Homo sapiens: one gene and its partners. The protein of the gene in region 1 purifies or fractionates together with the protein of each later gene. This does not show direct contact. Each region holds a gene or a part of one and is shown in the gene's direction. Other genes may lie near its edges.

Region 1 (5,345 bases):
AAATACAAAAATTAGCTGGGCATGGTGGCGTGTGCCTGTAATCCCAGCTACTCAGGAGGCTGAGGCAGGAGAATTGCTTGAACCCGGGAGGTGGAGGTTGCAGTGAGCCAAGATCGCGCCACTGCACTCCAGCCTTGGTAACAGAGCAAGACTCTGTCTTTAAAAAAAAAAAAAAAAAAAAAAAAGCTTTAATGTTCTCATTGCCCAGGGATCCAGCAGGGGGAAAAAAAGGAAGAACCCTAACTGAGGAAGGGAGTTAACAGTCCCAGTTTCTCACCATTCCAGGCACAGTATGGTGTATGCTGACCTCAAATTGAGGAGGTTGTTCTAATAGCCAGTGGCCCCAGGCATGGGTCCTTTCTCACCTGGTGGAGGTAGGGTACAGGAGGTACAGCTCAGTGGTTCAATCATCTAGCCCAGTAGTTCTCAACTAGGAGTGATTATTCCCTTTAGGGCACAATTGGCAATGTCTGGAGACATTGTTGATTGTCAAGACTGGGCATCTAGTGGGTAGAGGCCAGGGATGCTGCCAAACATCTGATAATAAATAAACAGGACATCCCCCCGACAACAAAGAATTATCTGACCCAAATGTCAATTATGGAGGATAGGGCTAGGCTGCCTAGGCACCGGCTAGGGTTTTAAATCCATTAATAATATATACCTAGAAGCTAAAAACATAGCATTTGAGCCAAAATTCTAATCAAAGTCTTATAATCAAGTTCCATTAGCCAGCTTTGTATTTATTGCCTAAAGGCTTTAATAAATTTAAGGATTAGTCTAATGATAAAAGAAAGTGGTAGGCTGGGCATGGTGGTTCATGACTGTAATCCTAGCACTTTGAGAGGCTTAGCTGGTAGGATTGCCTGAGGCTAAGAGTTTTTGAGTCCAGCCTGGACAACATGGCGAGAACTGTCTCTACCAAAAGTAAAAATTAAAAAATTAGCCAGGTGTGATGGCACGTGCCTGTAGTCCTAGCTATTTGAGAGGCTGAGGTGGGAGGATCACTTCAGCTCAGAAGTTTGAGACTGCAAACGGTTGGGGGGATGTCCTGTTATGATTATGCCATTGCTCCAGCAGCAACAACAACAAAAGTGGTGTTAGTTCTCTGGAGAGGAGGGGGACAAAAAGGTGATTGCCCTGGAGTTATGAGGGTTCTTTTCTCAAGAAAACCTGTGTCTATGTTCCCATGCAGGCGTTTGTGTTTGTGTGCACACTTACTCATTCATCTGAAACTTACTGAGACTTTTTCATATGCCAGGCCCAGAGATGAAGTGGACATAGCTCCTGCCCTCAGTAGGTTCACATTCTAGAAGGGAGACTGACACAGTGCAGAGTGGCGAGTGCTAGCTGACTGAGCCAAAAATTGAGCCCAGGTCTCCCTTTGTACCCCCTCTTATCAGTTCTCAGTATGTGCTCACCAGTATGTGTGCCCCAGTCTGTGGATGTGCTGTGTGTGTGGGCATGTGTGGTGTTTGCTAACATGTTTGTATCGTGGTGCATGTGCATACCTATTTATGTATGTTGTATACTTATGTTCACAGATGTTCATGTATGTGTGCACACATCTGTAAGCTCCTGAATGTTTGATTTCATATGTGCCTGTCTGTGTGCATGTGTTTGTGTATGTGTGAGAGCACTGGACACACATTTACATATGTGTACACAGTGTTCTTGTATGTGTGAGGCAGTATTAACTGTTGAGGGAGTCACATATGTGGATGTGTCAGGGCATGTACAGGTTCATGCCTCTTCACTGGCTTGTCTGGGCTTTGTTTTGTTTTGTTTCTGTCATACAGGTGTCCCTGGTGGTGAATGTGGCCAGCGAGTGCGGCTTCACAGACCAGCACTACCGAGCCCTGCAGCAGCTGCAGCGAGACCTGGGCCCCCACCACTTTAACGTGCTCGCCTTCCCCTGCAACCAGTTTGGCCAACAGGAGCCTGACAGCAACAAGGAGATTGAGAGCTTTGCCCGCCGCACCTACAGTGTCTCATTCCCCATGTTTAGCAAGATTGCAGTCACCGGTACTGGTGCCCATCCTGCCTTCAAGTACCTGGCCCGTAAGTCCTGGTCTCTTCATCCCCTCACACCTCCCTTAGCTGGCTGAGGCCATGGCTCCCTGGGCAGCAGAAGCCACTGGCTGGTTGGGTGACCTGGGGCCCCTTCCCCTTCCTGATCATCTCAGGTGGACTGATGCTTTGTTCCAGCACTAATCTTTGAGGAGAGTGGAGGCAGGTAGAAGCTGAGGGGTATTCCTGCCTAAGAATATCTCCATACCTGCTGCCTCTCACTTGTCCCTCAGAAGTCACTCTTTTGGACTTTTCTGGGATCCTGTTTTCACATTCAGGGGCTCCTAGAAGGAGACATTTAAGTCAGTGTGAACTAGATGAGTTTATGGACATATGATGGAGAAACCAAGGCATAGACAGGGGAGGCCACCTGCTTGGAGAAAGCTGACCAAGATAGTAGACAGGCATCTTCACCCTGAGTCAGTGGCGGAGTCTGTAGGCCATGGAGGGAGACCTTCTAAGCTAAAATACCAGATCTTAGTATTTGAGAACAAGATCCCTTCTCCAGCTGCAGAAGCCTCAGAGCCACAGAATGGGCTCATGGGCTAAGCTTGCCATTCTGACCATTTCTTCCCTCAGGCCTTCTCCTCTGGAGGCCCCATTTTTGCCTTTTCTGATTCCGTGCTTCTGGTGGCCTTTGTATCCCTTGCCACCACCCCACCCTGCAACCCATTCACCTGGAGGAGTAAATGAGAAGCAAGAGTGCAGCAAACAAAAGGTCCCTTACTGCGGCAGGTTTGTGTTTTGCTCTGTGGCTCAGTCCTAATGTTGATTTTTTTCTCTGTGTTCTTTTATTAGTTCCTTCCCAGTTCTCACAGTTATAGATCAAACCCGGCCTTGCTTTTAGAAGCACCTGGGGAGCTCTTAAAAATGCACAAGGCTGAGACCTACTGAAGCAGGGCCCAAGAATCTTTATTTTAAGCACTCCCCTGACCCCCAGTGATTCTGATGAAACCAGTCCATGGACTAACATTTGGAAACCATTAAAACTGAACTAGAGAATAGGGTGTAGACTATTCAGTAGTTCGAAGTCATTAATAAAGGAGGATTTGATACCACTTTATCAAGCACGTCACAGAATCCTACAGCAGTCGTTCTCAACCTCGGCCCCACTTTGGAATCTCCCAGGGGGCTTTTGAAAAATGCTGATGCCTGAGCCTCACCCTCAGAGATTCTGGTTGGAGTGGTCTGGGGTGTGGACTGGGCATCAGGATTAGCTGCCACCAGGGAAAGATGGACACTGAGAGTGAAGTCCCAGGAGAGGGTACGCAGGGTAGCACGCTTTGCTCTCCTTCCTTTTTCTCTAGAGACTTCTGGGAAGGAGCCCACCTGGAACTTCTGGAAGTACCTAGTAGCCCCAGATGGAAAGGTGGTAGGGGCTTGGGACCCAACTGTGTCAGTGGAGGAGGTCAGACCCCAGATCACAGCGCTCGTGAGGAAGCTCATCCTACTGAAGCGAGAAGACTTATAACCACCGCGTCTCCTCCTCCACCACCTCATCCCGCCCACCTGTGTGGGGCTGACCAATGCAAACTCAAATGGTGCTTCAAAGGGAGAGACCCACTGACTCTCCTTCCTTTACTCTTATGCCATTGGTCCCATCATTCTTGTGGGGGAAAAATTCTAGTATTTTGATTATTTGAATCTTACAGCAACAAATAGGAACTCCTGGCCAATGAGAGCTCTTGACCAGTGAATCACCAGCCGATACGAACGTCTTGCCAACAAAAATGTGTGGCAAATAGAAGTATATCAAGCAATAATCTCCCACCCAAGGCTTCTGTAAACTGGGACCAATGATTACCTCATAGGGCTGTTGTGAGGATTAGGATGAAATACCTGTGAAAGTGCCTAGGCAGTGCCAGCCAAATAGGAGGCATTCAATGAACATTTTTTGCATATAAACCAAAAAATAACTTGTTATCAATAAAAACTTGCATCCAACATGAATTTCCAGCCGATGATAATCCAGGCCAAAGGTTTAGTTGTTGTTATTTCCTCTGTATTATTTTCTTCATTACAAAAGAAATGCAAGTTCATTGTAACAATCCAAACAATACCTCACGATATAAAATAAAAATGAAAGTATCCTCCTCATTTTCCATAGTCTCCCTCCCTAGAGGTAAACAGTGTTAGCAGTTTGGTACAAAGGCTGCCAGGCCTTTGGTTAAGCCAATCATTATTGCCCAATAAGAACTCAGTGACCGGGCACGGTAGCTCACGCCTGTCATCCCAGCACTTTGGGAGGCCAACGTAGGTGGATCACCTGAGGTCAAGAGTTTGAGACCAGCCTGGCCAACATGGTGAAAACCCATCTCTACTAAAAATACAAAAATTAGGCTGGGCGCGGTGGCTCACGCTTGTAATCCCAGCACTTTGGGAGGCCAAGGCGGGCGGATCACGAGGTCAGGAGATCGAGACCAACCTCGCTAATACGGTGAAACCCCGTCTCTACTAAAAATACAAAAAATTAGCCGGGCGTGGTGGCGGGCGCTTGTAGTCCCAGCTACTCTGGAGGCTGAGGCAGGAGAATGGTGTGAACCCGGGAGGCGGAGCTTGCAGTGAGCAGAGATCGTGCCACTGCACTCCAGCCTGTGCACTCTAGCCTGGGCGACAGAGCAAGACTCCGTCTCAATAATAATAATAATAATAAAAATAAAAAAATAAAAATACAAAAATTAGCCTGGCATGACCGGGCACAGTGGCTCATGCCTGTAATCCCAGCACTTTGGGAGGCTGAGGCGGGTGGATCACCTGAGGTCAGGAGTTTGAGACCAGCCTGGCCAACATGGTGAAACCCCGTCTCTACAAAAATATAAAAATTAGTCGGGCATGATGGCAGGTGCCTGTAATCCCAGCTACTCTGGAGGCTGAGGCAGGAGAATCGCTTGAATCCGGGAGGCAGAGGTTGCTGTGAGCGGAGATAACGCCACTGCATTCTAGCCTGGGCAGCAGAGAGAGACTCTGTCTCAAAAAAAAAAAAAATTCACTGAGTAATCCACTAGCCAAAAGTACACCTCAATAACAAATAGGCAAAGGAGATGAATAGATAGTTCACGGAAGACTATAGATGCGTAATAAGGATACAAAAAGATGTCCAGCCTCATTGAAGTTGGAAAGTTTTTTGTTTGTTTGTTTTGTTTTTGTGATGGAGTCTAGCTCTGTCACCCAGGCTGGAGTGCAGTGGCACAGTCTCGGCTCACTGCAAGCTCTGCCTCCCAAGTTCACGCCATTCTGCCTCAGCCTCCCGAGTAGCTGGGACTACAGGCGCCCAC
Region 2 (8,164 bases), on another chromosome or scaffold:
TTTTTGTTTTTTGGTGAGATGGCATCTCACTCTGTCACCCAGGTTGGAGTGCAGTGGTGTGAATGGTGTGATCTCTGCTCACTGCAACCTCTGCCCTCCAGGCTCAAGCGATTCTCCTACCTCAGCCTCCTGGGTAGCTGGGACCATAGATGCATGCCACCATGCCTGGCTAATTTTTTGGTAGAGACTGGGTTTTGCCACATTGCCCAGGCTGATCTCAAGGGATCCACCCACCTTGGCCTCTCAAAGTGCTGGGCTTACAGGTGTGAACCACAGTGCCCGGCCAATAATTAATAATTTCATTACTTTTTTTTGAGGCAGGGGCTCGCCTTTCACCCAGGCTGAAGTGCAGTGGTGCCATCATGGCTCAGTGTAGCTTCCACCTCCTGAGCTGAAGCCATCCTCCCACCTCAGCCTCTGGAGTAGCTGGGACTACAGGTGTGTGCCAGTATGGCTGGCTAGCTTTTGTGTTTTTTGTAGAGACAGGGTTTCGGCATGTTGCCCACGCCCAAAATGCTGGGATTACAAGTGTTTGTGAGCCACCGGGCCCAGCCTTACTTTTTTTATTTTTGTTTTTGAGACAAGAGTCTTGCTCTGTCACCCAGGCTGGAGTGCAGTGGCGCGATCTTGGCTCACTGCAACCACTGCCTTCCGGGTTCTAGTGATTCTCAAGTCTCATCCTCCTCAGTAACTGGGATTACAGGCGTATGGCACCGCACCCAGCTACTTTTAGTAGAGACTGGGTTTTGCCATGTTGGCTAGGCTGGTCTCGAACTCCTGGCCTCAAGCAATCCACCAGCATCGGCCTCCCAAAGCGAGTGCTATGATTACAGGCATGAGGCATCATGCTCGGTCCTAGCCTTACTTTTTAATCCCTTCACAAATTGATTGATTGGTTGATTAATTGAAATAGAGTCTCTCTGTGTCACCCAGGCTGGAGTGCAGTTGCACAGTCTCTGCTCACGCTCACCGCAACCTCCGCCTCCTGGGTTCAAGTGATTCTCCTGCCTCAGCCTCCCATTCCTTCACAAATTTAAAATCAGTTCTAGAATGATGAGCTTAACATCAAATTTTTTTTTTTTTTGAGATGGAGTTTCACTCTTATTGCCCAGGCTGGAGTGCAGTGGTGCGATCTCGGCTCACTGCAACCTCCGCTTCCTGGGTTCAAGCAGTTATCTGCCTCAGCCTCCTGAGTAGCTGGGATTACAGGTGCCCACAACCACGCCAGGCTAATTTTTGTAGAGACAGCGTTTCACCATCTTGACCAGGCTGGTCTTGAACTCCTGACCTGGTGATCCACCCGCCTCGGCCTCCCAAAGTGCTGGAATTACAGGCATGAGCCACCACGCCCGGCCAACATCAGTTTTTTAAAAAAATTAAAAGAATTCCAGAAACGTTCATTAGATAGATATTTCTGAACAGGAGTAGCATTGGGAGTAGCATTACTCCACTAAGACTGTAGTCCTGGCCAAACTGAACTTACTTTTCCCCTCCTCTTTCTCTCTTGTCGTTTTCTTTCTTTTTTTTTTCTACTGGGTTTGTAGATCAGAGATTGTCAGAGACATAGTGTGTATCAGGACTTCAGCAAGAGATTTGCCTCTTGGTGAGCAAGATAGAGGAGAGTGAATGTGATGAGTGTAGAGAATTGAAAAGTTACTGCTTGTTTATCTATTGTCTGTCCACTTGGAAAGAGGTGTACTGCAAGATTTTTTCATCTTGTAAATGCATGGAAGGTTTGAATAAAGAAAAATTATGTCAGACCAATTTTCCAGTGGGGGAGAATAGCTAATATGTTGGATGACGGAATCAGGATTCAGAAAGAACCAATAACAAGATCACATGTTTATAAGACTAGAAGTTTTGGTTGGGCATGGTGGCTCATGCTGTAATACCAGCACTTTGGGAGGCTGAGGCAGGCAGATCACCTGTGGTCAGGAGTTCGAGACCAGCCTGGCCAACATGGTGAAACCCCCATCTCTACTAAAAATACAAAAATTAGCCGGGTGTGGTGTTGGGTGCCTGTAATCCTAGCTACTCAGGGGCTGAGGCAGGAGAATTGCTTGAACCCAGGAGGTGGAGGTTGCAGTGAGCCAAGATTGTGCCATTGCACTCCCAGCCTGGGAGACAAGAGCGAAACTCCATCTCAAAAAAAAAAAAAAAAAAAAAGACTAGAAGTTTTGAGCTTAGATTTAAAAAGACAAAAGACAGCCGAACAAACAATATATGAACCTTGGCTAAGCTATTGTTTTTGGAAGAGGTCCTATGAGTAGATTGCTCACTCAAAATGAGCCAAGACCATATTATGTCAAAAATAGATTTTTTTTTTTCCAAATAATACACTCACTCTTGCCCAGGCTGGAGTGCAATGGTGCGAGCACTCATTGCAGCCTCGAACTTCTAGGCTCAGATGATCCTCCTGCCTCAGCCTCCCAAGTAGGTAGGACTACAGGCTTGTGCCAGATGGCTGGCTAATTTTCTTATTTTTTGTAGAGATAGGGTCTCCTTATGTTGCCCAGGCTGGTCTTGAACTCCTGGGCTCAAGTGATCCTCCTGCCTTGCCGTACCAGAGTTTTGGGAATTACAGACTTGAGCCAGTGTGCCCAGCCAAAAGATTTCTTAAAGCTAAATTAGACTGTGAAAGCACAAACCATGAGAGAAAAGACTGATTTATTTGATTGTGTTCAAAATACAAATTTCTGGAGGGGCGTGGCGGCTCACGTGTGAGACAGGCAGATCGCTTGAGCCCAGGAGTTCAAGACCAGCCTAGGCAACATGGCAAACCCCATCTCTACAAAAAATACAAAAATTAGCTGGGCATGGTGGTGCACACCTGTAGTCCCAGCTACTCTGGAGGTTGAGGTGGGAGGATCAGTTGAACCTGGGAGGTGGAAGCTGTAGTGAGCCATGATGGCGCCATTGCACTTCAGTCTGGGTGATAGAGACCCTGTCTCAAAAAAAAAAAAAATTTTTTTCTGTGCAAAAAAGACACTACAAATAATGTGAAAATACAAGCCACAAAATGTGAGAAAATATTTACAACACATAATTAGAACTACATATACACATATATAAAGAACTGTAAATCGAGAAGAAAATGAAAACTAAAAAGAAAAATGGGCAAATCATGTGAACGTGAAAGTCACAAAGGGGAAACATCACTTGTAGTTAAACTTATGAAAAGACATCAGCCTTATCAGTAATTAGTTAAATAAAGATTAAAACAAGGTGTAGGGGCCGAGCGCGGTAGCTCATGCCTGTAATCCTAGCACTTTGGGAGGCTGAGGCGGGTGGATTACTTGAGGTTGGGAGTTGGAGATCAGCCTGGTCAACATGGTGGAACCCCATCTCTACTAAAAATACAAAAATTAGCCAGGCACGGTAGCACGTACCTGTAATCCCAGCTACTGGGGAGGCTGAGGCAGGAAAACTGCTTGAATCCGGGAGGCGGAGGTTGCAGTGAGCCTAGGTTGCGCCACTGCACTTCAGCCTGGGCGACAGAGCGAGACTCCATCTCAAAAAAACAAACAATAAAAAAAAACCAGGTGTAGGACTGCTTTATATTCATTATAAGAGCAAACTTTTTTTTTTTTTTCTTTTTTGAGATGGAGTCTCGCTCCGTCACCCAGGCTGGAGTGCAGTGACATGATCTCGGCTGACTGTAACCTCTACCTCCTGATCAGCCTCCCAAGTAGCTGGGATTACAGGCACACACCACCAGCCTCGGTGAATAGGGATATAGCTAAAGGGATAATGTTGAGTAGAAATATGGATTGATGGGCCGGGCACGGTGGCTCATGCCTATAATCCCAGCACTTTGGGAGGCCAAGGTGGGTGGATCACTCGAGGTCGGGAGTTCAAGACCAGCCTAGCCAACATGGTGAAACCCCATCTCTACTAAAAATACAAAAATTAGCCGGGCATGGTGGCAGGCGCCTGTAATCCAAGCTACTCGGGAGGCTGAGGCAGGAGAATCTCTTAAAGCCAGGAGGCAGAGGTTGCAGTGAGCCGAGATTATGCCACTGCACTCTAGCCTGGGCGACAGAGGGAGACCCCGTCTCAAAAAAACAAAACAAAACACCTATGGATTGATGGATGTAGCATGATACCATTTATGTAAAATTTAAAGGCATTCAAGACATCATTATAATAAAGTCCAAAGTCATGTTTGGGAATGATAACAAAGTCAAGGTAATTGCTGCCTCTGGAGAGGGAGAAGAGTAGAATCAGAGATAGGTACATAGGTAGCTTCATTTTTATACGAACTGTTTTATTTCTAAAAAAGATTTGAAGCAAATGTAGTGCAATGTAGGTTTGGTGTAGCTGCATTGTAGCTGCATGGGGTGTTTTATATGCTTGAAATATTTCATGGAATAATTTTTAAGTGAAGCATGTAATTATAAGCTTGTTAATTCTGTTTAAGTTTTATAGCTAAGTGAATTTTAAGTGAGTTCTAGACATTTATTGTAAATTATGTGATAGCACATTATTTTTTATTTTATATTCTCGATTTTTGTTTTATGACTTTAACTAAATTTCCAGTATTTAAAAGGTTTTAGATTTTCTAGCTTCTCATTTTTTTGTATGTTTTTCTTTCATAGTATGAAATTAATCTTTTGGAGCTGATCCAGAGAAGAAGAACAGTAAGTAGAAGATTTTCTAGAAGTTGGAGAAAAATACAGAACTAAGCAGTATGGCTGTATAGTTAGGACTTGTGTTTGGGAGACAGTGTTGATAAAACTGTGGTGATATGCCTATAATGGATATTTGTAATTATTTGTTTGCTTCATCAGTACCATTAAGTGGTCAAGTAGGAATGCTGTTTTGGACAAATATGATTAAGTTGAGGCTCTGTTTTTTTATGTCCCCCTTTAGCGCATTGGATATTCATTTAAGAAGGATGAGATTGAGAATTCTATTGTACACCGGGTACAAGGTGTTTTCCAGCGTGCCTCAGCAAAATGGAAAGTGAGTGATCAAGGCATCCTTAACTTTATGAGATGTGAAGATAAGTATTATACATATTGTATTAGGGATTCAAATGCAGTTTTCTATTTTTATCTTGGGTATCTTTATACTTACTCTAATGATGGTATCATTACTCAAAACATTTTTTGAGCCACTTAACAAACCAGTAAGAAAATTGATCTTATTACCTTATAGTTATTCTATGAGGACAGTGCTGAAAACAGTGTATTTGATACATTACTAAGGATTGGAAATTTGGGAGATATTTGTATATATTTGTAAGTACACTGAAGACTTAGAGCTAGAAAATAAATGGTTATGTAGGGGCAATACCTCAGAAACTTGATTTTTTTTTTTTTCTTTTTTTTTTTTTTTTGAGATAAGGTCTCACTGTGTTGCCCAGACTAGAGTACAGTAGGGTGATCTCGGTTCACTGTAACCTCTGCCTCCCAGGCTCAAATGATTCTCCCACCTCAGCCTCCCCAGTAGCTGGGATCACAGGCGCATGCCACCGTGCCTGGCTAATTTTTGTATTTTTGGTAGACATAGGGTTTCGTCATGTTTTTTAGGCTGGTCTCGAACTCCTGGGCTCAAGTGATCTGCCCACCTCAGCCTCCCAAAGTGCTGGGATTACGGGAGTGTTTGGGATTGGGTATATTATATGAGAAGTATTTTGGATTCTTGGTAATGACAAATTTTATATTGCTACCCCAGATTGAGATTCTTTAAGAACTGCATTAAACCAACTGGATAGATAACAAAGTTTTTTTGGAGCATTGTGAGTGGGAGTTGGGGGAAAGGTTGAATTATCATAGTTAAGAGATCGGAGGCCTTTGTGAGGAAGAGCCAGATAGGATGAGAGGTGACTGGATTTTCTGAAATCTGCTTCTTTTTTTTTTTTTTTTTTTTTGGTGGGGGATGGAGTTTTGCTCTGTTGCCCAGGCTAGAGTGCAGTGGTGTGATCTTGGCTCACTGCAACCTCTGCCTCCCAGATTGAAGCAATTTTCCTGCCTCAGCCTCCCCAGTACCTGGGACTTCAGGCACGCACCACCGCGCCTGGCTAATTTTTGTATTTTTAGTAGACAGGGTTTCACCATCTTGGCCAGGCTGGTCTCAAACTCCTGACCTCAGGTGATCCACCTGCCTCAGCCTCCAAAAGTGCTGGGATTACAGGCCTGAGCCATTGTGCCTGGCTTTTTTTTTTTTTTTTTTTTGAGGTGGAGTCTTGCTCTGTCACCCAGGTTAGAGTGCAGTGGCACACAATCTCGGCAGCTCACTGCAACCTTCGCCTCCTAGGTTCAAGTGATTCTTCTGCCTCAGCCTCCCTAGTAGCTGGGATTACAGGCACATACCACCACACCTGGCTAATTTTTTTTGTTTGTTTTTTTGAGTTGGAGCTTCCCTATGTTGCCCAGGCTGGAGTGCAGTGGCCCGATCTCGGCCTCCCGGCTTCAAGCGATTCTCCTGTCTCAACTTCCTGAGTAGCTGGGATTACAGGGGTCTGCCACCAAGTCCGGCTAATTTTTTTGTATTTTTAGTAGAGACGGGGTTTCACCATATTTGACAGGCTGGTTTTGAACTCCTGACCTCAAGTGATCAATCCGCCTTGGCCTCCCAATAATCTTTGTAATTTTAGGTTAGGTGGGGTTTCACCATGTTGGCCAGGCTGGTTTCAATCTCCTGACCTCAAGTGATCCGCCCGCTTCGGCTTCACAAAGTGGTGGGATTACAGGTGTGAGCCACCGCATCCAACCTGAAATTTGCTTGTTTTTAGCAAAATTAATTAATGCAAAGGTGTATTATATGTAAAGGTCAAATTTGGGCAGCTTACTACATTGCTTTTCTTGCAGGACGATGTTCAACTTTGGCTCTCCTATGTGGCTTTTTGTAAGAAGTGGGTGAGTAAAGCCATGCATGTCTTGCTTCCTCTGACCGTCTTTTTGTTAATCTGCCCTTTAAGCTTCATGCCAGATGTTTTTTCCTGAAGTGTAGGGTTAACATGAAAAAAGAACCCAAGAAGGCGGAACATCAATATAACATTGGATATCTGAATGACTATGGTTTCCAATTCAATTGAAAAGAATATAATTTTTACGTGTGTTTGTTCAATACAGTTGACTTTTTAAAAAGATATTTAAAGTGTTTAGTGGTTTAATTGAGGTAGAAAATTTTGAGGGTCTGTGTTCGTTTATATATCCCTAGCAATAGCATGTCATGCTCCATTGGATTTTACAGTTGGTAAAGTTAGGGTACATATTACTTAGAGAGTAAGATCAATGATTTATCTGTGCAGGAAGTAGAAATATTTTCCTTTTTTACAGGCTACTAAAACTCGACTTAGCAAGGTATTCTCTGCCATGTTGGCGATTCATTCCAACAAACCAGGTATGGTGAAATCTTTGTCAATTTTTCTATGTTTTATTTAGACTCAAGCCATTTTGGATTTTATTTCGATTGATGAATCTAAGAGAAATTATTTTGAGGACTTGAGCTTAGGCAGTTGGCCTCAGCAGTTTTTCTTACTGAATAGCTGCCTCATAGTTCACCCCTGCCTACTATATACTAGTTACTGTCCTAGGTGTTGTATCTGCAGGCAAGAAGGACTGTATTTCTTTTTTTTTTGAGACGGAGTCTCGCTCTGTCGCCCAGGCTGGAGGGCAGTGGTGTGATCTTGGCTCACTGCAACCTCCGCCTCCCAGGTTGAAGCAATTCTCCTGCCTTAGCCTCCTGAGTAGGTGGGATTACAGGTGCCCGCCACCACGCCCAGCTAATTTTTGTATTTTTAGTAGAGACTGGGTTTTACCACGTTGGTCAGGCTGGTCTCTCGAACCCCTGACCTCGTGATCCACCCGCCTTGGCCTTCCAAAGTGCTGGGATTACAGGCGTGAGCCACCACTCCCGGCCAGACTGTATTTCTTTTTAGATGATGGCAAAATAAACTTTTGAATCCTTTGTGGGACATTTTATTTGGAGGCAGTCAAATCTGAGGAATTTTAGAAGCTTAAAGGGGAAAATATCAATATAAATTTTAGAAGAGTGCTGGTACAGAGTAGACTCATGTTTTGTAAGAGAAATATTTCTCTTGTGAATAATGTATAAATGGTCTAGTTGATAGTGGAGGGGCCTCAGCACCTATTCTCAGGGTATTAGGCTTAATCAGATATCTTATACCACACAAGACTCAAATAGACTACATTTG
Region 3 (8,177 bases), on another chromosome or scaffold:
CGGCGCCTCACTCTGTCTCCTAGGCTGGAGTGCAGTGGTGTGATCTCAACTCACTGCAGCCTCCGCTTCCCAGGTTCAAGTGATTCTCCCACCTGAGCCTCCTGAGTAGCTGAGATTACAGGTACCCACTGCCATCCTGGCTAATTTTTAGTAGAGATGGGGTTTCAATATGTTGGCCAGGCTGGTCTCGAACTCCTGACCTCAAGTGATCCTCCTGCCTCGGCCTTCCAAAGTGCTAGGATTACAGGCGTGTGCCACCACACCTGGCTAATTTTTGTAATTTTGGGTAGAGACAGGGTTTCACCACTTTGCTAAGGCTGGTTTTGAATCCCCGACCTCAGGTGATCCACCTGCCTCAGCCTCCCAAAGTGGCGGGATTACAGGCATGAGCCACTGCACCCAGCCCCCTGATCACTCTTTCAATTCATACCTCAATCATCTAGAACCTTTGACCTTAAGTCTCACCCACTGGCAAAACCTAAAAGTGAATCAATCAAATTCTGTTCTTACACCTTGAGAGCTTTTAGGAGAATTGCAGCACTGTTTGGATCAATGCCACTACGAATTTGTGGCCTTGGTAAGGCCCTGCCCATGCCCACTGGTCCTACCTGTCAGCCTTCTCCCCTCTCCACAAGTCAGCTTTGTCAAGCCTTTATGGTCTCCTGAAGTGACTCTCCACCATCCATTCTTGGTTTTGCCTTAAACTTAAAAAAACAAAACAAAACAAAGCCTACAAACTTGTCTTTAGATGCTCTAATCCTTGTCTCCTTTCCTGTTGTGTGAATGGAAGAAGCATCTCCCCTCCTGTCGGAGGTTAGTTCCTCTGACGTCTCCCATTCTATCTCACTGCCTATGGACATCCCCCGCTGATTACAATTCCCCTTTCCTTTATATTCTTTCTTTTTTTCTTCTCTCTCTCCTTCCTTTTCTTTCCTTTCCCTTCCTTCCTACCTTTTTCTGTCGCCCAGGCTGGAGTGCAGTAGCACGATCTTGGCTCACTGCAGCCTCTGACCTCTTAGACTCAAGCAATCCTCCCACCTCAGCCTCCTGAGTAGCTGAGACTACAGGCACATGCCACCATGCCTAGCTAATTTTTGCATTTTTAGTAGAGACAGGGTTCTACCATGTTGCCCAGGCTGATCTCAAACTCCTGGACTCAAGTGATTCTCCTGCCTCAGCCTCCCAAAATGCTGGGACTGCAGGCATGAGTCACCGCACCTGGCCTCCTTTATTTTCAACTTTCCATTCTTACTAGCTCTTTCTTTTCTCTTTGTTTTGTTTTTGAGACGGAGTTTCACTCTGTTCTCCAGGCTGGAGTACAGTGGCACGATCTTGGCTCACTGCAAGCTCCGCCTCCTGGGTTCACTCCATTCTCCTGTCTCTGCCTCCCGGGTAGCTGGGACTACAGGCGCCCGCCACCACGCCTGGCTAATTTTTTGTACTTTTAGTAGAGATGGGGTTTCACCATGTTAGCCAGGATGGTCTCGAACTCCTGACCTCGTGGTCTGCCCGCCTCGGCCTCCCAAAGTGCTGGGATTACAGGCGTGAGCCACCGCGCCCGGTCTTACTGGCTCTTTCTACTCAGCATGTAACTATGCTTGTCTCTCCTATAATAAAATACCTTTCTCAGTCTTGTGTCTTCCTCTTATTATCATTACCTTACTTACTTTTAGAAGTAAAGTCCTCGGTTTTTCTATTCTTCTTTTTTTAACCTACAGAAATCTACCTTTTCTCATTATTCCTCTGAAATAAACCTGCCTAGGTTATCACTGTCTACAAGCTTTCCCTTGTAGGAAAGCTCCTCCCTGTAGTATCTCACCATGCTGATCACTTTCTCCTTGAAACTCTCTCCTCTGCGTGTCCATGAATGACTCTCATTTTTCTCTAACCTCTCCTTATCAGTTTATATGTTAGGCTATGTTCTCTCAGGAGCAATCTGACAAGGATTGAATGCACACAGTTTACTTGGGAGGTGATCCTAAGAAACACTGGCAGGGGAATGGGGAGGTAGGGCAAGGAAAGGAAGGAAGACTGTATGGGGAGTGCTAATGAGCAGGTGTGGCTGTGGGCAACTGGGGTTCAGTTCCATTGAGGAAACATTGGGAGACCATGGAATGTACACCTCCAAGTGGTTCCACACGAGGAATGAGTTGGGCTGTTTGATCCATTGTTGGGGAGGAAAAACTTTTCCTGCACTCTCTTATGTTCAGTTCTGAGGGGCTGCAAATTTAACTGACAAGAGAAAAAACATATATGCATATGGCACTGCACAAAAGAAGTGATGATGATTTATTTACCTAACTTAATAGGGGAGAGAGGGGGGCAAAAAGGCTCCTATGGGAAGAACAAAGGGGTTTCTAGGGAACAAACAGGAGATAAGGAAGTTTGTGTTCATAGGGAAGTTGTTTATGCAGGTGCACGTGGTTTTCTATTTCATGTCCATAAACCCCTGGAGAGGGGATGAATGGCAACCTCACTCCCAGAAGATTCTGCTTTTACTGAAATAAAGGAAGCTTCAAGAAGGCTTCTTTTTGCCTCTATTGAATCTTACATGTCTTTAGTTTAAAATAATCCTCATGCCAATTTTAGGGTTGAGAGTGCATCCTCAAACCACCAATTCCCCAACATCCCTGGATGAAGGCTCTTCCTGGAGGTGTTGGCTCCTTGGTAATTCCAGCCTGCCTTTCCTGCTGGCTGCTTCCTCCTTCTGTTGGAAAAAGCTTAGGCAGAGAGTTCAGGAACAAATGCTGAGTGCCAAGGGGACGTAGGCTACTGCCTATTTTTCTCTTCCCCCACTTGCTTATTTAATGTGGGTATTCGCCAAGCTTCTTTCCCCCCGTCCCCCACCTTTTCACACTCTTCATTTTTGCCAGGTGATCTTATCAACTCTCAGTTACCTAATGCTCTGATGTCACGCAAATCTACATCCCTTCCCTTCTCATGTCCCTCAAGGTCTAGACCTGTATACAGAATACACCTGCCTGTTGAGCGTCTTACCTTGGGTTGTCCACTGCAAACTCTCAACATAAATAACACTGGGGTTATAGTCCCTCAAATCCTGTTTATTTTCTGTTATTCCCCACCTCGTCTTGCTTTTCTAGAAATCCATTCTTCTCATTGCTGCCAGGGGTCTTTCTAAAACACCTATCCTACAATATGGCCAGGTACTATTTTAGGTGGTAGGGATACAGCAATGAACAAAACAAGGTTCCTGCTTTCATGAGCCTGAATTCTATAGCTAAATATATAAATACACAATAAAGAAGAAAAATATCAGTGGTAAGTTCCATGCAGACTGGGGAGCTACTTTAGATTTGAGAGGTCAGGAAAGGTTTTGCTGAAGAGAAGACATTAAAGCTCAGAGCTGAATGACACACCTTGAGTGGCACTCAGGAGACATCCACACTTCCCAGATGAAAATCCTTTAGTGACTTCCCAAAGTTCTCGGGATATAAGTCCAAATTTCACAGCATGGCAGAGAAGGTCTTCTGGCATCTGGCCAGTTGTCTTCCTCTCTAGCTTCTTTACATTACATGACATTAATGCATTTAATCCTCACGAGCACCTTGCAAAATAGCAGCTAGGCTGGCTGAGTTCTCTGATGGTCTGATTCATCTTTGTACTGTCACTGCGTTAGTAGTTGGCTCAACAAACGTTCATGAAACAAGCAAGGTGTTGGACAAAAAGCATGGATGCTTAAGGCAGGTCTAGACTGGTGCTGCTCAACAAAAATAAGGTAATCCACATTTGCAATGTAAAATTTCCTCATAGCTACATTAGGAAAGTAGAAGCAACACATGAAGTTGTCATAACATTTTATTTATCCAAATATATCCAAAATATTATGTTTAACATGTGATTCATATAAAGTTAGTGAGATATTTTACATTCTTTTTCTCATTCTCAGTCCTCAAAATCTAGTGTGTGTATTTCACACTTATATCACATCTCAATTCGGACTAGCCACTTTCCAATAAAGCTCAGCAGGCCCCGCGGGGTGGCTCACGCCTGTAATTCCAGTGCTCTGGGAGGCTGAGGCAGGTGGATCGCTTGAGGAGTTCGAGACCAGCCTGGGCAACATGAGGAGACCCCGTTTCTACAAAGCAAAACAAAAACCAAAAAAATTAGTGATGCGAACCTTCGGTCTCAGCTACTCAGGAGGCTGAGGTGGGAGGATCGCTTGAGCCCAGGAGTTCCAGGCTGCAGCGAACTACGATAGCGCCACTGCACTCCAGCCTGGGCGATAACGTGAGGCCTTGTCTCCAAAAATAAAAATACAACAACAACAAAAAATCCCAGAAGTGCTCAGCAGCCACATGTGGCTAGTGGCCACCTCCCGCGAAGCAGCCCGGCCACTCACCTCCTACCACCTTTTACCTATTTCTCCTTCTCCGCAGGCCTCCCTAGCACTACCAGTTGTCTTGTTGGCGAGTCCTTTGTGACTCCCACTATACAAGCCCCTCAAGGCCAGGCTTCGCCCTGAACGGTGCCTGGGCGGAGCAGACGCTCCATCAACGCTGTCCCCGCCTGAGTCCACGTCCAGGGGATCCGCAGGCGCCGTACCCTGCTTCCACGCGCCGGGGCCGCCCCTCGCCCGGCCTCCCGCAGGCCCACCCCTCGCCAGGCCCAGGCCCATCCCCGGGCTGTTCGCTGGAAATCGTGGACGTGACTGGGAGGAGCCTGCCCGCCCCGGCTCGCTGCGCCGCGCGCACAGGGCCCGCGCCAGCGACCATGGCGGAGCCCACAGTGTGCTCCTTCCTCACCAAGGTGCTGTGCGCCCACGGCGGCCGCATGTTCCTGAAGGACCTGCGCGGCCACGTGGAGCTGTCGGAGGCCAGGCTCCGGGACGTGCTGCAGCGCGCCGGGCCCGAGCGTTTCCTGCTGCAGGAGGTGGAGACGCAGGAGGGCCTCGGGGACGCGGAGGCCGAGGCGGCGGCCGGCGCGGTGGGCGGTGGCGGCACCTCCGCCTGGAGGGTGGTGGCCGTGTCCTCTGTGCGCCTCTGCGCCCGCTACCAGCGCGGCGAGTGCCAGGCCTGCGACCAGCTGCACTTCTGCCGCCGGCACATGCTGGGCAAGTGCCCCAACCGGGACTGCTGGTGAGAAGGCGGCGGCGGGCGGGGACTGTGGGCGCTGGCCGCGGGCCTGGCCGTCCTGCTGGAAGCGGGAGCGACGGGAAGGGGGGCTTCGTCCTGCCCCGGGCCGGGGACGCGGGGCTGGACGACCCCCTCCCGCAGGCCTTTCCTGGGCGTCCTCCCCCGCGCTTCCAGCAGCTGGGCGGAAAGGCGCGAAGGTCCTCTCCATGGAGACGTCTCAACCGCCCACGCCAGAAAAGTTGCTGCCCCCGCCCGCCCCCCCGGATCCTGCGCGACGCGGCCGGGTTAAATCCGGACTGGGACTTCGGAGCTCACTTATTCTGGTGATATTTGGCGGGAGGTGGGGGGCGTGGGGCGTCTGAGGATCCCATGAGATCCCTGGACCCTTTAGCCGGAAATCGCTGCTCCCCCATATCCACACACTTGTGCAGAAGCGGGTCTGCGCCCTCTAGGTTTAACAGCGCTGAGCCAGTCTCACCCCAGGAAACAGGGCTGGATGGCTTGGGTGAGGCCCTGTGGTTCCTGACTGCCAGAGCTGGGGTTCGGGGCTGCCTCCTGACCCCAGGCTGTGCTTCACAGCCCCGAATTTTCCTTGGTTGTCTCTAGCCACACACCCCGCCAAAGCGGTGCTGGGGATAGGGGCGCTTTCTTTTTAACGTTGGTGGACTGTGGCAGCTGTTGCCGGGGAGAAGGCCAGGTGCAGTCGCCTACGGAACAGATGTGCATCCTCAGGCGAGGTGGGCGACCCTTGGCTTCAAAGCATCCCTACTGAAAATTCAAATGACCCTGGGAGAGGAGTTCCTTCAACCCAATTTTCTTATTTTCCATCAGTGCTTATTAGGCCATACTATCCCCGGTTTCATGAAAATTACTCAACTTCACATGTATTAAATACATTGAAAGCTGCTCAAGGCAAGGAATTGGACAGACTGGTCCTTCTTCACCTGGGCATCTGACCGAGGGCTTTGTTCTTTTAGGTCTACCTGTACCCTTTCCCATGATATCCACACACCTGTCAACATGCAGGTCCTGAAAAGCCATGGACTTTTTGGTCTCAATGAAAACCAGCTTCGGATCCTGCTTTTGCAGAATGACCCCTGTCTTTTACCAGAGGTGAGTCACCAAGGAGTCACCCTCATGTCACATTTGCTACAAGTACTTTCCCCATTTATTTTTCTTTTGGCTTTACATATTAATTTTAATTGCCTTCGAAGCAACATGATTCAGTTTCAAATGCTTTAAAGGTACCCTTTATAATTGCTATCATGGCGAAATAGTACGTTTGTTTCAGTTTAGCCATACACAAAGAAGTTTTAAAAACAAAATAGTACAAATCCCAAGAGAAAATTGGAACATCAATTAAGACCACCAATTAAAAGCAAGATTTTCTAATCTAGCACAGTGATGCTATCATAGACACCTCCACTTGGCCAGAAGAGGGATGGGAAGAAGGGGAGATGTTGAGAAAACAGAGGATAGTTCATAATTGTGGCCTGATTTTAACTCTAATGCATTTCAGCGTCTAGAAAGGAAGATAGCCACAAGACTAGAGGTAGGAGCTGGAGCCTTTGGTGCAGGTGGCAGAGGCTGCTCTCAAGGCAGCAGAATCTGTACCCAGAAGGCAGTCCTGGAGTTGATCTCAGGAACAAGCAGGTTTCTTCCTGACATGCATAACCTGTTTCATTTCTTCGAGCACTGAAGCCAAGTCTGGTATGTCACGGTTGTGAGCCAGAGGCATTCCAACCAACCATGTTGCCCAAAGTAGATGCAAGCAGTAGCTGAAGCAGGTTATTGGCAGGAAGGGAGAGGAGGGTGGCTGCACCTATGAGGCTGGGTCCAGTCCTTCCTGTCTCAGAGAGAAGGCGTGGTGCCGCTGCTATTTGCCTTTTAATTTTATAGTACTTTTTGATTTATAGAAGTTTAGTGTTTTTATTTTGTCAAATCTATCGAATGTTTTTTTGGTATGCCCTTTTTTAGGATGTATCTTGGGCCCAGCCTCACCTTGTCATATTAGACTACTTCAGTGTTTTGTGAGCAGCTGATGGGTTGGCTGCACTTACAACAGGAGCCTCCCCTGTGCCTCCACTTGTCCCCATCACCTGGGACTGGAAGTAGGTGACATGTGGCACAAAACGTGATCATGTGGGCAGCAGGGACTGTGGAAAAACACAGTGCATGAGGCAAGAATGGTGCCTCACATCTCTTGTATGAAATGCCTGATGATTGCTTTTACCACTCTCTCAATAAAAAAGACAATAGACAGGTAAAGTTTCATGCTGGTGCATTGATGGACAAATTTCTAGAAAAATACAGCTTGTCAAAATGGATTCAAGAAGAAACGGAAAGCCAAAATAGTGTCATAAAAATTTTTAAAATAAAAGCATTAAACAAACCTCAAAGCATTAGTTAGAAGGCTTGCACAAGAAAACATCAGACTTATATAGTTTTTTTTTTTTTGAGACAGGGTCTTACTCTCTCACACAGGCTGGAAGTACCTCGGCTCACTGTAGCCTCTGCCTCCTGAGTTCAAGTGATTCTCCCACCTCAGTCTCCTGAATAGTTGGGACTACAGGCACGTGCCACCATGCCCAGCTAATTTTTGTACTTTTTGGTAGAGATAGCGTTTCACCATGTTGGCCGGGCTGGTCTTATATGCCTGACCTCAAGTGATCCCTCTGCCTCAGCCTCCTAAAGTGCTGGGATTACAGGCGTGAGCCACTGCGCCTGGCCAGGCTTATATAGTTTCATAGTTGAATTCTATCAAATTTTTGTCTTTATTGAAGTGTAGTTGACAAATAAAAATTTTATATTTACAGTGTACAATGTGGTGTTTTAATATATTTACATTGTGAATTGATTGCAATGATTAAGCTAATTAGCATACCATTACTTTACATGGCTATTATTTTTTGGGTGTGGTAAGGACAGCAATTTTCAGGTATACAGTATGTTATTTTTTTAAATTTTATTTTATTTTTTATTTATTTTATTTTATTTTTATTTTTATTTTATTTTATTTATTTCTTTTTTTTTGAGATGGAGTCTCACTCTATCACCCAGGCTGGAGTGCAGTGGTGAGGTCTC
Region 4 (8,164 bases), on another chromosome or scaffold:
GGGGTGAAGTTGACAGGCCCACGCTGATGGCCGCCTCTCTCCCCAGGCAGTGGAACAGGTAGACAAGAACAGGATATAGTTTTTTTTTTTTTACAAGGTTTAACCAACTTGACCTGAGTTTTGCAAACTTCAGCGAATACTTGGAGAAATGGCATCTGTTCAAGTGGGCGTTTATTAAAGTGGACTCCACGTTGGGTCATACAGCAAGTCTCAAGGCATCTCAACAGTGGATTAAAGTGGGAATCAGTGACAGGAAAACACCCAGAGACCGTATGCTCGTTAAGTGACCTGTGTGCCAAAAAGGAAATCACTGTTGAAATGAGAAAATATTTTAAACACATTGATAATCAAAATACCACTTACCAGATGTGTGGGGTGCATCTGAAGCAGGGTTTAGAGGAAATGTGTAACTTCAAATGCATACATTAAAAGGAAGAAAGGTTGGTTGCGCACAGTGGCTTACAGCTGTAATTCCAACACTTTGGGAGGCAGGAGGATTGCTTGAACCTGCGAGATCAAGGCTGCGCTGTGGGCGAGAGGCGTGTTCCCTGCGTGGTGAGCCTGCGCCGTGCCTGGGCGAGAGGCGTGTTCCCTGCGTGGTGAGCCTGCGCCGTGCCTGGGCGAGAGGCGTGTTCCCTGCGTGGTGAGCCTGCGCCGTGCCTGGGCGAGAGGAGCACAGGGTTGCAGCCATGGCACAGATGTAACAGCTGAGCCTGTCAGGAGTCCGCTCTGCCCTGTTGGAGCTAGTCTGGCAGGAGCCTGCGGGCAGTGTCCTCTGCAGTCCAGGGCTCTCGGGAGTGGCCAGCCCTGCTCACAGACCTCATTGTGCCCTCAGCGCCAGGCTGGGTGAGCCGAGCCTGCAGGCCCAGTGCCCAGGGCCATCTCAAGGGGCAGCTGGGGGAGGGAGGCTGGGCATGAGCGGCACTCCCTCTGGGGCTGCCCAAGTTCGGTCTGTCCCAGGACCCAAGCCCGTCTGGCCGACCTGGCTCCCTGCACACTCCCTCCCTCCGTGCCCCTCCCACTGTGCCTCTCCGCCCTCGGTCGTGGCCGGTCTGAGCCTCCGCTGCGGTGGCCGTCGGATTCTCTGCTGGTGCCTGCAGGCTCCTCTGCAGACGTTGCCTCCTCCACATCTCCACGCCAGCTGTGCCACCGCTGTGCAGTCCCTGCCACCCCTGACGACAGACAGCGGCACGCAAAGAGGCTCGGGCGCAGGGGGAAGCTCGTGTTGGCCCCGGCTGGAGTGCACATCAGTCCCGGCTTCGGCCGTGGCCACCTCCGCCCAGAGCCTTGAGTGGGCATTGAGGGGGCGCTGCTCTGCGTGAGGTTGGCCACCCCTCAGGGCGGGCACAGGGTGCTCTCCCCTCGTGCAGGGAGAGGATGTTTTAGAGGGTGAGCAGGAAGGGGTGAACTAGAGGCCTTTCACACATCACAGGCATGTGTGGAGCTCAGAGAAGTGACAGTTAAAACCAGCCGTGGCTCTGACCCACACAGGCCGCCGGGCCCGTCTCCCTGCCCTCCCTCGGCGGATCCCACTCTGCTCTGGGTGTTCCTGGCCCTGCAGACACTGGCAGCCTGGGTTTCCCAGGAACTGGCCGCCACTCTTTTGTGTTTCTTCTTTATTTTCTTAGGTGTATAACATTCAACATGTAGAGATTTTAGGTGGCGTAAAATAAGACAGGCATGGGGAGCCTGCTGCCCGCTGGAGAGCCCAGGCTTATCAGTGCAGTTTATGACAGTGGGATCAGAGATGATCATAGGAAATGTGTGAAATAGCCTGGAATTCCTTAGAGAGCTGTGGGGCTGGGAAATGGTCAGTGTCAGGTCACACCTGCCTCCCCGTGCGGCCAACACCCCAAGGCGGGCCCTGCTGACCCCTGCCCCTGCTCCCCACCCACATGGCCGACACCCCAAGGTGGGCCCTGCTGACCCCTGCCCTGCTCCCCACCCGCACGGCCGACACCCCAAGGCAGGCCCTGCTGACCTCTGCCCTGCTCCCCACAGCTCAGCCTGGGCTGCCTCCCCAGCCCCACAGTGAACACAGCTTTGTTTCCCCCGGAATCATGTTCCCAATTCCCTGGCAGCCGGATTCTAGAGGTCTTGGTTTTATGGGCATCTGTTGACAGTTGTGGATTTTTGTCAGGGCGGACGTCGTCATTTTTATGGAAAACACATTTAGTATCCCAGAGTGCGTGCTCTGAGCTGCCGGGTGGCTGCAGTCTGTGTGTGCTGGGTAGTGAGGGCCAGCGCCTGCCTTGGAACCCTGGGGTCCCACCTCAGAGCTGCCTGCCTGGGTGCCGGAGTCTCCAGCTGTGGGATGTTGTCCCGTCTGCTCTGAGCACGTGGCCTCCCCTGGAGTTGCAGGAAACATGGCGGCCCCGCCCGGTGCCCCTCTGCCTTGAACACAGTCGCGGGCATCCCCACTGTGACGTCCGAGGAGCGAGTGAAATGATGCTCTTCTGGGGCCGTGACCGGGGGTGCTGGTGCCCTGTGGGTTCCTGGGACAGCTGCTGGGTCAGCTCACAGGGCTCCAGCTTCCGCAGGCGGGGGTGGCCGGCTGCCCTGGTTGTTCTCGCCCCGCTGCCTGCAGCTGCCACCTGTTTCCATGCACGTTTCTTTAGTGAATGTCCAAGGACTTACAGACTACTTGGGTGGCCTTCCTAAGTGGTGTCTACTTGTAACCGCAGGTATGACCTGGACGCGTGTGACATTCAAGAAAAATACCCGGATTTATTTCAAGTGAACCTGGAAGTGGAGGTGGAGCCCAGGGACAGGCCGAGCCGGGAAGCCCCACCATGGGAGAACTCGAGCATGAGGGGGCTGAACCCCAAAATCCTGTTTTCCAGCCGGGAGGAGCAGCAAGACATTCTGTCTAAGTTTGGTAAGATCCCGCAGGTGAATTAGGTGAACCCTGTTCTGGTGAGTGTCTCTGTGGAGAGAGACACCTTTGGCTGAGCTCTGGCAGGGCTGGGCCCCACGCCTGCTGCTGCACCCAGGCCCTGAGCAGCTTGGGCTGCAGGAGGTTTTGGAAACTCCGTCGTGGATGTTGGACACCACCACCAGCTACACCAGAGAAGGACTCGCAGGCTGCAATTTCTGAGGCCCATGGGCAGGGACGGAGGCAGAGGGAGGAAAACCCAGGCTCCTGGAGCGAAGCGGGGTTTTGTCCCAGGCGTGTGTCTGGGTCAGATTTTTGTCATGTGTGCTGGACACACGTCCACTCTCACTGTGAGCCTCAGGCCTGCTGGCAGCATGTGGAACAGAACCCTCGCTCCTGTCGCTCTTCACTTCCGAGCAGTTTCGAAACGGCAGCCCAGGAAGTGCTGGCAGGTGGGCCCAGGGCCGTCCACTGCTCATGCCACGCTTGTTCTCGGCTCTTGGTTTGCAGTGTTTGCTTTTTCTTTCTGAGCATCTTCAGCGTCCCTGAAAGAGGCTGTATGTGTGACCTGTGCGTGCTGTGTATGTGTCCGTGGGTGGTGTGTGCCGTGTGTGTGTGTGCACGAGTGGTGTGTGCATTCATGTGTACTGTGTATCTGTGTGCTGTGTGCATTCGTGTGTACAGTGCATCTGTGTGTGCTGTGTGTGCGTTCGTGTGTACCATGCATCGGTATGTGCTGTGTGTGCGTTCGTGTGTACCGTCCATTTGTGTGTGTGCATGCATGTGTACTGTGCATCCGAGTGTGTGCATGTGTGTGTACCGTGCATCTGTGTGCGTGCATTCATGTGTACCCTGCATCTATGTGTGCTGTGTGCATTCATGTGTACTGTGCCTGTGTGTGTGCATTTGTGTGTACCATGCATCTCTGCTGTGTGTGCATTCGTGTGTACTGTGCATCTGTGTGTACTGTGTGCATTCATGTGTACTGTGCATCTGTGTGTGCTGTGTGTGCATTCATGTGTACCCTGCATGTGTGTATGTGCTGTGTGTGCATTCGTGTGTACTGTGCATCTGTGTGTGTGCATTCATGTGTACCCTGCATGTGTGTATGTGCTGTGTGTGCATTCGTGTGTACTGTGCATCTGTGTGTGTGCATTCATGTGTACCCTGCATGTGTGTATGTGCTGTGTGTGCATTCGTGTGTACTGTGCATCTGTGTGTGTGCATTCCTGTGTACCATGCATCTGTGTGTGCTGTGTGTGCATTCCTGTGTACTGTGCATTTGTGCTGTGTGTGCATTCATGTGTACCGTGCATCTGTGTGTGCTTTGCATTCGTGTGTACCCTGCATGTGTGTATGTGCTGTGTGTGCATTCGTGTGTACTGTGCATCTGTGTGCTGTGTGTGCATTCATGTGTACTGTGCATCTGTGTGTGTGCTGTGTGTGCATTCATGTGTACCCTGCATCTGTGTGTGTGCTGTCTGTGCATCCGTGTGTACCATGCATCTGTGTGTGCATTCATGTGTACTGTGCATCTGTGTGTGCTGTGTGTATTCATGTGTACCCTGCATCTATGTGTGTGCTGTCTGTGCATTCGTGTATACTGTGCATCTGTGTGTGCTGTGTGTGCATTCGTGTGTACCCTGCATCTGTGTGTGTGCATTTGTGTGTACTGTGCGCCTGTGTGTGTGCTCTATGCATTCGTGTGTACCGTGCAGCTGTGTGTGTGCATTCATGTGTACCCTGCATATGTGTGGCGTTTGATGCCTCAGTGGTGGGTTCCTTGTGCGTGTTCATGTGTGCGTGTGCTGTGCCCAAGTGTGCACGCATGGCCCAGAGTGGCATCCGAGTGGATAGCAGGAATCTGTTCAGAGAGCCCCTCCCCGTCATGTCATTGGTCTGCTTTACCGATGGCCTGGCCTGCCACGGTGCTGGCGCCCGCCTGGCTGCACTTCCCAGCTCTGGGGTCAGTGTTGCCCCGAGGCTGCTGGCCAGTGCCAGTGCCCTGACGCCCTCCCTCTCCTGCAGGGAAGCCGGAGCTTCCCCGGCAGCCTGGCTCCACGGCTCAGTATGATGCTGGGGCAGGGTCCCCGGAAGCCGAACCCACAGACTCTGACTCACCGCCAAGCAGCAGCGCGGACGCCAGTCGCTTCCTGCACACGCTGGACTGGCAGGGTAGGCAGCGTCCCTGGACCTGGCCACTTGCAGAGGGCAGGCCCCTGGTCTGGAGGTGCCCCTGGGGCAGGGCAAGCGTCTTGGGAGACGGGCCTCCGGCAGAGCTGAGTTGCACCTCAGTGGGGCTGTGCACCCGGCATGTCAGCCTGTTCTTTAATGGCTCACGAGCTAAGAATGATTTCATATCTTTTTAAAGGTGAAAAAAAAAGAACATGCCCACAAAGTCTGAAATAACAACCCTCGCTCTTCATCCCAGTCTGTGGGCCTGGGGAGGCTGGCAGCATGGGCCATGCTGGCGGGGCCCCTGGGTACAGGGGAAGGGCCTGGGCGGAGGGACAGACTGTCACCACCTGGGGATCCCACACCTCTCTTTGCCCACACCCCCAGTGGGCTCCCAGCCCCTCTGAGGCTTTTCAGGAAAACACCTGGGCGCCATCACTGGACCTCACCCCAGACACACCCCAAGGGATGCACCTGCCACTTCCTGTCCCAGCACCCCTGGCCTTCCCATCGGGCTCGTCCCTTCTGCCGCCTGTTCCCAGAGCACCCTTGATTGGTGTTCCTACCCCCTAGTGCTGCCATGTGGCCCCCACTTGACTCAGCCTGAGGCACCGCAGAGGCCCAGGCGGAGAGAGCCACAGGCAGACCCTTGAGGCAGAGGCTGGAGGTGGGTGTGCTGGAGACGCCTCAGGAACAACACCCCACCGCCCGCCCAGAAGCTTCTGCAGCACTCGCCAGGGCCCTGGGCCAAGGAGGCGCTGAGGGGCCGTGCCATGGGGACATTGGTGCTGGCCATGTGGGTTCGCCAAGGCCCTGGGCTGAGGGGACGCGCCGTGGGGACCCTGGTGTTCCTGCAGCACTTGCCAAGGCCCTGGGCCGAGGAGGTGCCGAGGGGCCATGCCATGGGGACCCTGGTGCTGGCCACGTGTGTTCACCAAGGCCCTGGGCCGAGGAGGCCCTGAAGGGACGCGCCGTGGGGACCCTGGTGCTGGCCACGTGTGTTCACCAAGGCCCTGGGCCGAGGAGGCCCTGAAGGGACGCGCCGTGGGGACCCTGGTGCTGGCCGTGTGGTCTCACTAGCCTGTGGTTTTGTTTCCTTTTCGCAGAAGAGAAGGAGGCAGAGACTGGTGCAGAAAATGCCTCTTCCAAGGAGAGCGAGTCTGCCCTGATGGAGGACAGAGACGAGAGTGAGGTGTCAGATGAAGGGGGATCCCCGATCTCCAGCGAGGGCCAGGAACCCAGGGCCGACCCAGAGCCCCCCGGCCTGGCAGCAGGGCTGGTGCAGCAGGACTTGGTTTTTGAGGTGGAGACACCGGCTGTGCTGCCAGAGCCTGTGCCACAGGAAGACGGGGTCGACCTCCTGGGCCTGCACTCCGAGGTGGGCGCAGGGCCAGCTGTACCCCCGCAGGCCTGCAAGGCCCCCTCCAGCAACACCGACCTGCTCAGCTGCCTCCTTGGGCCCCCTGAGGCCGCCTCCCAGGGGCCCCCGGAGGATCTGCTCAGCGAGGACCCGCTGCTCCTGGCAAGCCCGGCCCCTCCCCTGAGCGTGCAGAGCACCCCAAGAGGAGGGCCCCCTGCCGCTGGTACGTGTTTCTGTTCTGAAGGCGAGTGGCTTCACAGTAGATGAGTGATGAGGCTGAGTCATTCTCACTGCATGGGCGTGTTTCGAAGGTGCTTGCAGGAAGGGAACGTGCCCTTCCCCCACCTCCCCCAGGAGCAGCCTCGGGGTCATGTCAGGGTTCTGTGCTGCCCACCTGAGCTCACGGGCCGGGAGCTACTGGCTTCTCCATCTCAGCAGTGTTGCTGTGTCCCTGGGAAAGTCATCCTGAGGCGTGGGGCACGGGGAGCCCCTGGGCTGACTGCCTCAGTGCCCCTGCGAGGGCAGCCGTGGGGTCTGGGCTGCCCAGCTGGAGTGGCCTCTTGGGCAGGCCTGACTCCAGAGCTGGGCTCCTTTGTCTTCAGGCAGCCGGGCTGAGTCCTCCCCATGCCCGCCTGTCCCCACAGCTGACCCCTTTGGCCCGCTTCTGCCGTCTTCAGGCAACAACTCCCAGCCCTGCTCCAATCCTGATCTCTTCGGCGAATTTCTCAATTCGGACTCTGTGACCGTCCCACCATCCTTCCCGTCTGCCCACAGTGCTCCGCCCCCATCCTGCAGCGCCGACTTCCTGCACCTGGGTAAGTGCCTCTCGCCTGGCAGCCAGCTCTCCATGGCCGCCTCCCTCAGGACCGCAGCCTCTGGTGGGAAACAGAGCTGTGGGTCTCAGGCAGTGGTGGGGCTGGACTGTGTGGCCTCCGGGTGCGCTCCTTGCGGCCCAAGCATCCTGCAGGACGTCCCAGAGGTCAGGACAGACTGCTCCCTGCTCTGTCTCCCCAAACCATCCCCAAACCTGGAACAGGTTGTGGGGCCCTGCAGTGCCTCAGTCGTCTGTGACTGGCAACAGGTGTTTCTCCAGGCCTCCTCAGGCCCAGGCCTTGCAGCTGTTAGCAGAGAAGGCCACCTGCACCCAGAGCTTGTGTAGGGACCAGAGGTCAGAGGGAGGCAGCTGGGGGACCCAGGGTCCGGGAAGCTGACCTGGTCTGGGTGTAGCAGGGGCCGTGGGGCACCGTATCCATGGGGAGGAGGTCAGGCGCCGGGGCACAGCATGGCTTGTTTAGACAGACGCCGGTGGGGCCAGGCCCTGGGAGAGGGCTGCGCGCCCCTCCAGTGTGGTCCTAGGGGAAGGAGCCTGGGTTCTCTCTCCTGAGGAGGCAGCAGCGTGGTCCACGGCGTACTCTGGGGTGATGATGGTGACCATTGCAGGATGGCTTGTGGGCGGGTGTGTGGAGTGCAGCCTTGCAGCGTTGGGGCGGGTGCCGCCAGAGGTGTGCTGCGTGGCCAGAGCCAGGGCAGACAGGACCTGCTGGGCCCTCTGTCTGCCGAAGGCAGCTCAGCCAGGTGGAGCCACCTCGGGCTCTGGTGGGTTTTAGGAGAGGCGGGAACGCAGGCTGTGGGGATGGCGGCAGAAAGTGGGGTCCTGACAAACCCTTTTGGATGGGAATGCGCAGATGCTTGTTCTCAGCCTGGCCTGCGAGCTGCTCCGCCTGCTGGTGCCCCTACGTCCACTCGCTCAGTTC

The links.
Region 2: the proteins of GPX7 (region 1) and UTP6 purify together in Homo sapiens (affinity purification with mass spectrometry; 2 studies listed by BioGRID and IntAct, with this or other methods). This does not show direct contact.
Region 3: the proteins of GPX7 (region 1) and ZC3HAV1L purify together in Homo sapiens (affinity purification with mass spectrometry; 2 studies listed by BioGRID and IntAct, with this or other methods). This does not show direct contact.
Region 4: the proteins of GPX7 (region 1) and GAK purify together in Homo sapiens (co-immunoprecipitation; 3 studies listed by BioGRID and IntAct, with this or other methods). This does not show direct contact.

What each region holds. Positions count from the first base shown.
Region 1 is NC_000001.11:52,604,885-52,610,229, forward strand, and holds the end of GPX7 (glutathione peroxidase 7 precursor), read left to right. Parts: intron 1-1,799; coding exon 1,800-2,061; intron 2,062-3,377; coding exon 3,378-3,541; 3' UTR 3,542-4,167; downstream 4,168-5,345. UniProt on the Homo sapiens protein: It protects esophageal epithelia from hydrogen peroxide-induced oxidative stress. It suppresses acidic bile acid-induced reactive oxygen species (ROS) and protects against oxidative DNA damage and double-strand breaks.
Region 2 is NC_000017.11:31,891,446-31,899,609, reverse strand, and holds part of UTP6 (U3 small nucleolar RNA-associated protein 6 homolog), read left to right. Parts: intron 1-4,598; coding exon 4,599-4,640; intron 4,641-4,872; coding exon 4,873-4,965; intron 4,966-6,815; coding exon 6,816-6,863; intron 6,864-7,286; coding exon 7,287-7,350; intron 7,351-8,164. UniProt on the Homo sapiens protein: Part of the small subunit (SSU) processome, first precursor of the small eukaryotic ribosomal subunit.
Region 3 is NC_000007.14:139,032,572-139,040,748, reverse strand, and holds the start of ZC3HAV1L (zinc finger CCCH-type antiviral protein 1-like), read left to right. Parts: upstream 1-4,706; 5' UTR 4,707-4,731; coding exon 4,732-5,096; intron 5,097-6,070; coding exon 6,071-6,206; intron 6,207-8,177.
Region 4 is NC_000004.12:865,425-873,588, reverse strand, and holds part of GAK (cyclin-G-associated kinase), read left to right. Parts: exon of another isoform or gene 1-288; intron 289-363; exon of another isoform or gene 364-521; intron 522-2,684; coding exon 2,685-2,878; intron 2,879-4,903; coding exon 4,904-5,050; intron 5,051-6,156; coding exon 6,157-6,633; intron 6,634-7,054; coding exon 7,055-7,225; intron 7,226-8,164. UniProt on the Homo sapiens protein: Associates with cyclin G and CDK5. Seems to act as an auxilin homolog that is involved in the uncoating of clathrin-coated vesicles by Hsc70 in non-neuronal cells. Expression oscillates slightly during the cell cycle, peaking at G1.